Linked DNA regions of Homo sapiens. The protein of the gene in region 3 interacts with the protein of the main gene of each other region in a pairwise test. Each region holds a gene or a part of one and is shown on either strand. Other genes may lie near its edges. The genes, in order: CEP57L1, IQUB and KATNAL1.

What was found.
Region 1: the proteins of KATNAL1 (region 3) and CEP57L1 interact in binary tests that used the Homo sapiens proteins (3 or more experiments, as listed by UniProt).
Region 2: the proteins of KATNAL1 (region 3) and IQUB interact in binary tests that used the Homo sapiens proteins (3 or more experiments, as listed by UniProt).

Annotation. Positions count from the first base shown.
Region 1 is NC_000006.12:109,101,927-109,105,584, forward strand, and holds part of CEP57L1 (centrosomal protein CEP57L1), read left to right. Parts: intron 1-3,658. UniProt on the Homo sapiens protein: Centrosomal protein which may be required for microtubule attachment to centrosomes.
Region 2 is NC_000007.14:123,454,567-123,458,224, forward strand, and holds part of IQUB (IQ motif and ubiquitin-like domain-containing protein), read right to left. Parts: intron 3,001-3,658; coding exon 2,815-3,000; intron 2,711-2,814; coding exon of another isoform or gene 2,627-2,710; exon of another isoform or gene 1-2,626. UniProt on the Homo sapiens protein: Adapter protein that anchors the radial spoke 1 (RS1) complex to the A microtubule of outer doublet microtubules in axonemes. The triple radial spokes (RS1, RS2 and RS3) are required to modulate beating of the sperm flagellum.
Region 3 is NC_000013.11:30,206,533-30,210,190, reverse strand, and holds part of KATNAL1 (katanin p60 ATPase-containing subunit A-like 1), read left to right. Parts: intron 1-1,452; coding exon 1,453-1,651; 3' UTR 1,652-3,658. UniProt on the Homo sapiens protein: Regulates microtubule dynamics in Sertoli cells, a process that is essential for spermiogenesis and male fertility. Severs microtubules in an ATP-dependent manner, promoting rapid reorganization of cellular microtubule arrays.

The DNA.
Region 1 (3,658 bases), on a different chromosome or scaffold from region 3:
GTTTTTCAAAGCAGCAGTACCATTTTCTATTTCCCACCAATGAATGAGAGTTCCTGTTGCGCCCCACCTTTGCCAGGATTTGGTGGTATCAGTGTTTTGGACTTTAGCTGTTCTAATAGGTATGTAATGGTATCTCATTATTGTTTTAATTGGTGATTCCCCAATGACATATGTTGAGCATCTTTTCATACGCCTATTTGCTGCCTGTGTATCATGTTTGGTGAGGTGTCTTTTCAGATCTTTTGTCCATTTTTAAATTATTATTACTGTTGAGTGTTTTTGTTTTTTAGAGGCAGGGTCTCCCTAGGTCACCCAGGTTGGAGTGCAGTGTTGCTTTCATAGATCACTGTAACCTCAAACCCCTTGGCTCAAGCAGTCCTGCCTCAGCCTCCGAAGTAGCTAGAACTACAGGCATGCACCTCCACGCTCAGCTTACTATTGAGTTTTAAGAGTGCTTTGTATATTTTGGACACACAAGTCCTATATCAGACCTGCATTTTGTAAATATTTTCTCCAAGTCTGTGGCTTGTCTGTTCATTCTTTAATAGTGTCTTTTGCAAAGCAGAAATTTTTAATTTTAGTGAAGTCCAGCTTTCATGTATCATGCTTTTCGTGTTGTAGCTAAAAAGTCATTGCCATACCCAGGGTCATGTAGATTTTCTCCTGTCTTCCAGAACTTTTACAGCTTTGTGTTTTGCATATAGGTTTATGATCCATTTTTTAGTTTTTTTTTTGTAAAAGGTATAAGGTCTGTGCCTAGATTTATGTTTTTATTAAAAAGTTTCTGCTGGATCTGAAATTATTATTTTGATCAATAATATTAAAAGGTGAAAAACTTTTTTTTAAAGACCATTATACTGAATCTGTACAACTATATTGGTGCCATTCTTCAAAACTGTTCCTTGAGAGAGAGACCTGAAGTCAGCCTAAAGATGAGGCCAGGGAGAACTTTATCTGGAATGTATCAGGAAACCGGACTAACAGTTCCATTTTAGTTATCTGTTGTCAGCATGTGCAGTTGGCTGAGTGCTGTAAGTGAAAATTGTTAGGAAGACTTTCTACAATTAAGAATATTATTCTCCAATTGAATTACCTTGTTACTTGTCTACATTGCTGGTTTTTGTTTTTGTTTTTTTGCTACTTTTTTGCCTAGTCTTACAAGGTTGCAAAAATCAACCTGTGATTTTTCCACAATAGTTTGACCCTTCTCTACAATGAAACACTGAAGCCATGTAAACTTAAAATATCTCTTTCTATGATAACTGACTTCAACTTAAGTTTTTAAAGGAAATTATACTAATTATTTACTGTATAGTAGCATAAGCAGTTTTGCCTCTAAATGCTTCCTTAGTTTTTCTTTTGGCTTGTTGAAAAATGTCTTGTCAACCAAGTACTATATGTGTACTTTTATGTGTGGGGTATATGTGTATTGCCCAAATGAATCATAAAGGCTCTTAATTTGAATCTGTATATTTTATTTTTAAGTTTTCCTTAACAAGGTCGATTTGAATTCCTTAACAAGATTGATTTGAATGATATTCTTTTCAGCCCTTCAAAAACATATTTTCTGAAACACTGTCATACATACTATTCTCAGAATACCATGCCCCTTTTTTCTATGTTATTTTGGTTCCATCTTTCAGGAATAAATGAGTAAACCACTTAAATCAAGTTTACTCTTCAGTATTTTCTCCAGTTTTTCTGTTTTTGGTGTCTCCAAATTTACTATAGTATGCTTTGAATGACTAAATCTCTAGTATTTCTGACATATATTAATGGATAGATTTTTAAAAACCAATAATTGTTGAATCTATTTTCATTTTGCTCTTCTTGAAAGATTTGTGAGCGAGCTCTAGCAATATACGCAACATACAATATGAATTTTATAAACCAGTCTCACTACTGATTTTATTCTTATTTTTCTACTTATTTTCCTTATCCACATTTTACATGAATATATACATATATAGGGGTAAGATATTAAAATTATATGTCATTTTTAAAAGCATTACATATTTCAAACAAAAAATAAGAGTAACAAAATAAATACCCTTTTAAACTACCCCTTGGAATGAACAAATGTTAACATTTTACCTAGTTTGCTTTAGTTTTTGTTTTTTTTTTTTTCAATGAAATGAAATATCACATAGGTTGTGAAAGTGCTCTTGGCACAGTCATATATTGTCTTTGTCTTTTAAAAAAATGTTACATAGAAGATATCTTACTATCTGTAACTTACTTTCTGTTTTACTCAACAATATATTTTCAGAGCTTATCTGTGTTGCTAAATGTAGATCTTGTTTTCAAATTTTAGCTGGTGTATAGTGTTTCATTGTATGAATATGATACAACTTATTTATCCAGTCCCTATTAATGTATATTTATTTAAAAAAAAAATTTTTTTCTGTTGCAATCAGTGCAGCAGTGAACATCATTATACATATGTCCAGATATGTGCCATTTTCTCTAGGGTTCACTCATAAATTCGGAGAAGTGGAATTGCTGAGTTATAGGATATACACAGGATCACATTTTTCAAGTTATGTTTTGTTTTACCAGTTTACACTCCCACTGGCAGTTCATGGGAATTTTCATTTCCCCACATCCTTGACAAAACTTAATATTGATAGGCGTGTTTTTTTGTTTGTTTTTTGTTTGTTTGTTTTGTTTTGTGAGACAGAATCCCACTCTGTTGCCCAGACCAGAGTGCAGTGGCACAATCACAGCCCACTGCAAGCCTCAACCTCCCGGGCTCAAACGATCCTCCCACCTCTGCCCTACAAGTAGCTGGGAACACATGTGTGTGCCACCACACCCAGCTAATTAAAAAATTTTTTTTTTGTAGAGACAGGGTCTCACAGTATTGCCCAGGCTGATCTTGAACTCCTGGGCTCAAGAAGTCCTCCCACCTCAGCCTCCCAAAGTGCTAGGATTACAGACATGAGCCACTGCACTGGGTCCTGATAGGCTTCTTTTAAAATTTTTTTCAATCTAATGGGTGTAAAATAATTTCTGTATTGTTTAAATTTGCATTTTCCTGATCAATGAAGTAGAACGTTTTTGTCCTTTTAGCTATTCGTGTTTTCTTGTCTTTTAACTTCCATTGTACCTTTTGTTCCTTTGTTAATTGACCTTTGTGTTTTTCTTAATAATTTATAGGATAGAACTTGTTTCTGTATTTCAGATACTAATCTTTTATGTTATATATGTTTCTTTTTTAAAGATATCATCAATGATGTTTTTTGTTATACAGACATTTTAATTTTTATATAGTTTTATCATTTTTTCTTTTTTATTTGTAAATTGTCTTGTTTTAAGAAATCTCTTCTTACCCAAAGTCTGAAACGTACTCTATATTTTCTTCTAAAACAAAGGTTTGTTGTTCACGTATAGATGTTCAGTCTAGCTAGAATTTATTTTTGTGTTTGGCATGGAGTAGAGATATATGTTTATATTTTACCGTGTGGATAGCACTGTATAGTGAATATTGGCATAGTGAATATTGAATAGCCAATCCTTTCTCCATGTAAATGCCCTCTTTTTCATATACCAAATTCCCACATATGTAAAAGTTTATTTACTCTCTTTTCTTTTGTATCAGTCCCTTTTGTCTCACCTCAGGCCTATACCACTATTTTAATGACTGAAGTACCATAAT
Region 2 (3,658 bases), on a different chromosome or scaffold from region 3:
CATCAAGAGACCTTTTTTCCCATTGAAATAAGGTCCATTCTCTTGAAATAGCCATGTGATGGTTTTAAACTATGTTCACAAATTCTTTGGGTGTACAAATAGTTCTAAGAATATTACAGAAAGGTCCCATATACCCCACACCCACATTTTCCTGAATGTGTCTCAATCTGGGTTTGTCCTGTGTTTTCTTCATTATTATTAGACTGAAGGGATGGGTTTTGGGGAGGAAGACCACAGGGGTGAAGTGCCCTTCTCCTCACATCATATCAAGGGTACACACCATCAGCATGACAGCACTGCTGCTGTTAATCTTGATTACCTGGCTGAGGTAGTGTTTGTCAAGTTTCTCTACTGTAAAGGTCCTCCCCTTCCATCCATAATATAGTCTTTGGAAAGGAGTTATTATGTACAGCCCACATTTAAAGGGTAGAGAGTTATTCTCCATCTCCTTAAGAGTGGAGAGTATCTACATAAATTATTTGGAATTCTACATGGGAGATTTGTCTATTTGCCTCCCTTTATTTATTCATTCAGTCGTTTTTTAAATTTTTTAAATTGATAATAATTGTACATATTTACGGGGTACATAGTGATGGGATGATACATATATCATGATCAGAGTAATTAGCATATTCATCTCAAACATTTATCATTTCTTTGTGCTGGGAACATTCGATATGCTGCGTCTAGCTATTTGAAACCATATATTGTAATTAACTATAGACAACCTACAGTGCCACAGAACAGTACTAGAACTCACTCCTCCCATCTAGCTATAATTTTTGTATCCTTAACAAATCTCTCCCTGTTCCCTCAACCTCTGAGACCTTTACTTTCTACATTACATTTTTTATTCTGTTCAGATTCTAAGCCAATAATATATTGCTTTAAAATTAAAAATAAAATGCATCAAAAATTTTTAAAGTGCTTTCATAGTTACTACCTAAGTTTATTCATGCCAAAAAAAACTATGCAGAAAGCTTTAAATAATGGCCTACTCAAAGCTTCCCTATGATGAGATACCATTATCTCTTTTTTATAGACGAGAAAGCTGGGTCATTGAGACATTCACAAATTTGTCCAATTTCTCCCAGCTCATGAATGGTAAAGCTAGAATTCAGAGCCAGAGCTGCTTTTATCCTCTTTACTGATTCCACTTATTTAGCTAATCTTTCTAAAAATTTATGAAGCAAAGAGGGAAGGTTTTAATGTAAAGTTGTCAGTGACAGAGATTTGAGTTAACTGGGTCAGGATTACTGATTTTAAGTCCATGATTGTTCCTACTTTGGCCAGTGTGCACACAAGGAGAGATCAATCTGCTCCACTTAAAGTTCACATTAACGAAAGTGTTTTTCCACGTTTCCTATACCTGTTTCATATTAACTTGCAAGTATTTTTTTAACTTCTTAAGAAAGCAAATATCTCTGAACATTAAGAAAATTCTGAAAATGCTCCATCTTTCTGCAAGATATAAACTACTCTTTAACTGGGCTGAAAGTTAATAGTTAAAAGATTGTATCAGCCCAAAACCATAAAAAAGGCAAATGTTTTTCCAGTTTGTCTGCTTGCAAATCTTGGTGCCCTTTACAGAAATTCGATAAGACTGGCATTCTAAATTAGAAATGCATGTGAATAGAACATTTAATTTGATACTGCAGTAATTTGATTAAATGCACAAAGGGAGTTGTGTGGATTAATTGAAGAAGCACTGGAATATCAGCTTTGGGAATGAACTTCAATCTCATCATGGGTCCTAGATGAAATGATATTGCTAGTATTGACTATGCTTCCTGTGATTAAATATTTATGAGGCAGCTTAGTTTACTAAATATAACATTTAATACAGCTTCAACTTATTGCTACCTTTTCTTTCAATCCCTAGAGTGAAATTTTTCTTAGCCTGGCTTCTTAAAACTAAAAAAATATTTAAAAACTAAAACTTTAGCTAGTTTCTTATCTTTATATTCATCACCCCTTGTTCCACTGAAAAAAAACAAACAGGGAATCACACTATTTTAAACGACTACTGCATTTTGTCATTTCTTTACTTTCCTTTAGCTGACACCTTGTGTGGAATTAAAGAATGCAGAGAATCAGTATTAACTCTCGGGATCCTGGACCTAGTGTAAATGGAGCTCTCTACGAACTCTTCAGGAGTCCCTCAACTTACCCATCAAAATGTTTTACAGATTGCATCATGTAAGTTACTAAAATTACAGTAAATGGCATTTAATGTTTACAGTGCTTGCTCCACTCCCAGCAAGTTGGAAGCAAATGAAAAATGGAGCATCAGAACTACACCCCATCAGTATGATTGCTATTTAGAGCACAAAATTATGAACAAAATTTGAGAGTTGGGTGTTTTTAAGCAGACTCATGATAATTAATCAAAGAAGGACAGATTCTGGGTTCCATAATACCTATCTGGTGGTAATGCACATTTATTCATTCAACAAATACTTATAAACTCCATTCTGTGACAGGCAGTATTGTAGGTATTAGAGAAATAGATGTAAATAAGCCAAACAAAATCACTGCCTTCATGGAATTTACCGTGGAATGTGCTTAAACTTACTATTAGGAGAGACTGGTATGATGTTTAGGACTTGTAATATGTTCAAATCTCTTATATATACCTTTTATTTAATCTGTGCCATATATGCCATCCATAAATTTTTTTGTTGTTAATCCATAAGTTCTGTTTCTTAATCTGATGGAAGTATTTAAGCATGGAATATATTAGAAGGCAGTCCAGTTATCGCTAATAATTCCAATGATTAAATTAACTTCCCAAATAAAATTCAACTTTCTTACCTCTTCAATACTTGTTAGCTTGAGATGAGCAGCTGCTTCATCTTTGGTAAGAAGAATGCAGTTCCAGGGGGACCACTCCAGGGATTTATTCCATCTGACCATGACCAGATCACTGAGATTGTCGCAAGCACTGAGGACTGACTGGGACGCCCAGATGTTCTCTGTCAGGTACTGAATGTCTTGTAGCTGCATGTCAAAGCAAGTTTTAAAAACAATGTAGTTTAAATTTGTTTAAGATTATTATATTACTTGAGCAAATAATTAAATTATAGAGTATTTTTAAGTGAATTATTATTCACTAGGTTTCAATGACACATAGCCCCTTATTTTTCACTAAACTTCTGTTCATTTTGCCTAAACTACATTATCAGTCTCACAGTTGCGTCCCCATCTCTAAACCAGAGTAAGCAGTATAAATTCATTTCAGTATGCTAATTTTACCTGAATATAATCTTAATAATACTATAATGTTACCATAATAAACATATGGTATTGAATGATCTTTAAAATTCATTAGTAAGTACCATCTTAATTTCAGGGCCATTGTAGGGACCTTTTAAAACCTTTTACTGCCATTTTACAAATGAGGAAGCTGAGATTTTTTTTTTTTAATATGGAACACTTCACAAGTTTGCATGTCATCCTTGTCCAAGGGCCATGCTAATCTTCTCTATATGGTTCCAATTTCAGTATATGGGCTGCTGAAGCAAACACAGGAAGTTGAGATTTAATAAAGATAAGTAATTCACTTAGTGTTAATTAAAAGACTTGGTTGTTTTAATCAAAAAGAGGGGTAATGAAATAGCTGTTTAAAACTTTTTAAAAAACGTAAATCTTATCAGCT
Region 3 (3,658 bases):
GGTTTCCCATTTGTCCCTTTTTTTTTACATATAACTTTATTTTTCATTGTGAGATGAAAATTATATAGCAGTGGTCGTTGATGTTTTTGATCTTTGGATTTTTAAGAAATTGTTGTGTCGGTGGCTTACGCCTCTAATCCCAGCACTTTGGGAGGCCGAGGCGGGTGGATCACGAGGTCAGGAGATCGAGACCATCCTGGCTAACACGGTGAAACCCCGCCTCTACTAAAAAATACAAAAAATTAGCCAGGTGTGGTGGCGGACACCTGTAGTTCCAGCTACTCGGGAGGCTGAGGCAGGAGAATGGCATGAACCCGGGAGGTGGAGCTTGCAGTGAGCCGAGATCGCGCCACTGCACTCCAACCTGGGCAACAGAGCGAGACTCTGTCTCAAAAAAGAAAAAAAAAGAAATTATTGTGTCTAACTCGATAATAATGACTTTGACAACCTAAGATTAGTTTAGCTTTGTGTTGGAGCCTTTCTGCATCAACCTAAAGTAATATTATTTAGTTTTTGTTGGCATTATTTAAACACATGCAAATGAGCAAAAATGATCAGCGTAAGCTGGGGAAGATACACGTTTAAAATTTTTTCAGTTTAGCGACATCATAAGTTTTAGACAGTTCCTGTCACTGCAGTTATTTTTTTTCTTATTTTTCTAACTGCACTTAAATTGACTTTAGTAGCCTTTCTTTAAAGCCACAGCATCTGTTTTTCTCACCTTTTCTGCTCGCATTTTTCCCATGTGCATCCAAGTTTAGTGGCATACAATAAGGTTGCAATAGTTCCTACTGCTACTATAGCAAAATATTTAAGAACTTGACATTTTTGTTGGCTTGGCCTTCCTAATAGCTTTTTTGTGATTATGAATTATCCTTTTCTTCCAGACCTTCATATTTATTTATAGTTGGTCAAAGAGAGCTGCACATGGGATCAAGAGAAGCCAGAGTTTATGCCTTCAGTTGCCTACAAATACTCCATGTAGGGAATTCCATGTCCACTATATGTGGATATTCATGTTTCAGAGGGAGTGATTCGTGTCTTTATTCCTCTATTTAGGCTGTAGACAAACTGGTCTGTGGTTTGAATTATCTTAACATTAGCCATATGTTCATTTCCAAGTGTACAATTCAGTATTTCAAAATTTGACTTCAGTTTCCTAAACTTCTTGGCTGTCTTTGAGGAGCAAGTGGAGAAAAGAAAATTCAGTACTATTCGAGCTTAACTTAGACTTTTAGGGTTCGTTAACTATACATTTCATGTTTTTGGTTGTTTGCATCCTGTCTTAACTTCTGCTGAACCCCCAGGATGTTTCTTAAGTGGAAAATTCTAAGAAGCCTCATAAAAACATATAAAATAATCTTTTGATTTTTTTTTCATAACTTTGTTACAATTGAAAGTGTTTAAAACATGTGCAAAAATTACTGTTGACTGATTTTGGTATATTTTTAGGGATGCCTCTTTAATGGCAATGAGACGGCGTATCAATGGCTTAAGTCCAGAAGAAATCCGTGCACTTTCTAAAGAGGAACTTCAGATGCCTGTTACCAAAGGAGACTTTGAATTGGCCCTAAAGAAAATTGCTAAGTCTGTCTCTGCTGCAGACTTGGAGAAGTATGAAAAATGGATGGTTGAATTTGGATCTGCTTGAATTTCTGTCAGCTCTTTAATTTCTGGTATTTTTGTTGATAAAATACGAAGAAATTCCTGCAATTTTTAAAAAACAAGTTTGGAATTTTTTTCAGTGGAGTGGTTTTCGCTTAAAGGAAAAAAAAATCTAAAACTGCGAAGAATACTAAATGTAGTTGAGAAATAATTGATGGCGAGAGTTTGCTAGTCTCCCTCCCCGGCTTTGTGCTGGTATTCCACGTATTCCTGCATTAATATTGCACACCCAAACCAGTCTATCAGGGAGGCTGAAGCAAGGGCGCAGTGTGATATTTTAGGAATACAGAAGATTTAGAAATACCCCTATTTCTCATTTGCAGTTTTTTTTTCCAATTCTGTGCTCTGTCAACATGAGGGACCTATCTATGTATGTTGACTTTTAACATCAAAATTGGATTTGTGTCAAACATTCATTGTTAAGAGAAGAATGACAGTATATTTTGGAGGAAATAATGAATTTACTAATTAAACCTTTAGAATTTATGACTTACTGTTAGAGTCTGTCATATGGTTAGAATTTTTACTTCCGCTACCCCTGCCATTTCTTCTGCTAGCTACTTCATAATATCTTGAGCTTTACTGAGGAATATTCTCACGCTCTGTGGTATTTGAATCATTTTGCCAGGTCATTTCTCTGTCTTTAGTATTTTTTGCTGGTGCTTCTTACATTTAATATGGAAAGGTGGGAAGAATATTACTGCATTAGATGTAATTCTTCATTCTAGACTTCCAAGTTTGTTTTCACTTTTTTGTGTGTGCGTGAAGGAGTCTGTGTCACCCAGGCTGTGTAGTGCAGTGGTTGATCTTGGCTCACTGCAACCTCTGCCTCCTAGATTCAAGCAATTCTCCTGTCTCAGCCTCCCAAGTAGCTGGGATTACAGGTGCGCACCACCATGCCTGGCTGTGTTTTCACTTTTCTTTCAACATGTTCAACCAGATATATAGCCATTATTTTTCTCAGCTCCAGCATTGTTTGATTTTTCTTGAGTTTGATTTTAGTATTTGAGATAAATACTTTTACATTCTAAACAAGTCCACTCTCTGTGGCTAACGCAAAACAAATGAAATCTTTATTGTTTTCCAAACAGCTAGTTTAACAAAACAGCATCATACATAGTGAATGATGTTCATTGGAAAATTCTAAAATTTGTCCTTGTCTAGGTTGAGAACTTTTACACACACTAAGATAAAGATAGAAATCTGACATGCTCACTCAATTCAGCAGGAATTACACATTAGAAAGAAGCCAGAAAAATAAATGGCATATATCCAATCACAAGTAAATGATCCTGGCGTTAGTTTTTATGATTACATGTGTCTCATTAGGCAATTTATGCTTTAATGGTCAAGCTTTTAAAAATTTGTATTTGATAACATCCTGAATTCTCAGTTTCGAATAGTGCCTACTGGTTTAAAACTAAAAATAATACAGCTTTTTGGACATTTAACCAAGATACTAAGAAGGTTTTTTTTAAAAAAAGAGATTTGATTATTTTTCCCTGCTAAAAACTGTAAATGCCTTATGTTCTTTTCAGATAACTTAAGTCTGACCTAAACTCCAGTATTCATCTGATGCTGTAAATTGCCCTTCTTTCTGAGACACAGATTATAAGATGCCAGATCATAAGACATCATGATTTTATTGTAATTGAATTCTTCCTAAAAATTGAGAGGTTTCCTTTTATTAACTTTTAAAATAAAGAAATAAGTAGTTTCATTACGATTATTTTGCAAACTATTGCCAGTCAGAAATGCACTTTTTTTTTCCCTGAAGTTTTAGGAGCCGTCACTAAAACATTAGTCTTGTGATTGTTAAAACTTGTTTGTAATGGGTTGGTGCAAAAGTAATTGTGGTTTTTCCATTACTTTCAATGGCAAAAACCGCAATTACTTTTGCACCAGCCTAACAATAGTTGATTAGTTAGACCTTTTCTGGGTTTTGTATTGATTATCTTGGTGTGCATTTAATTATTTTTCTGAATTCTTCATG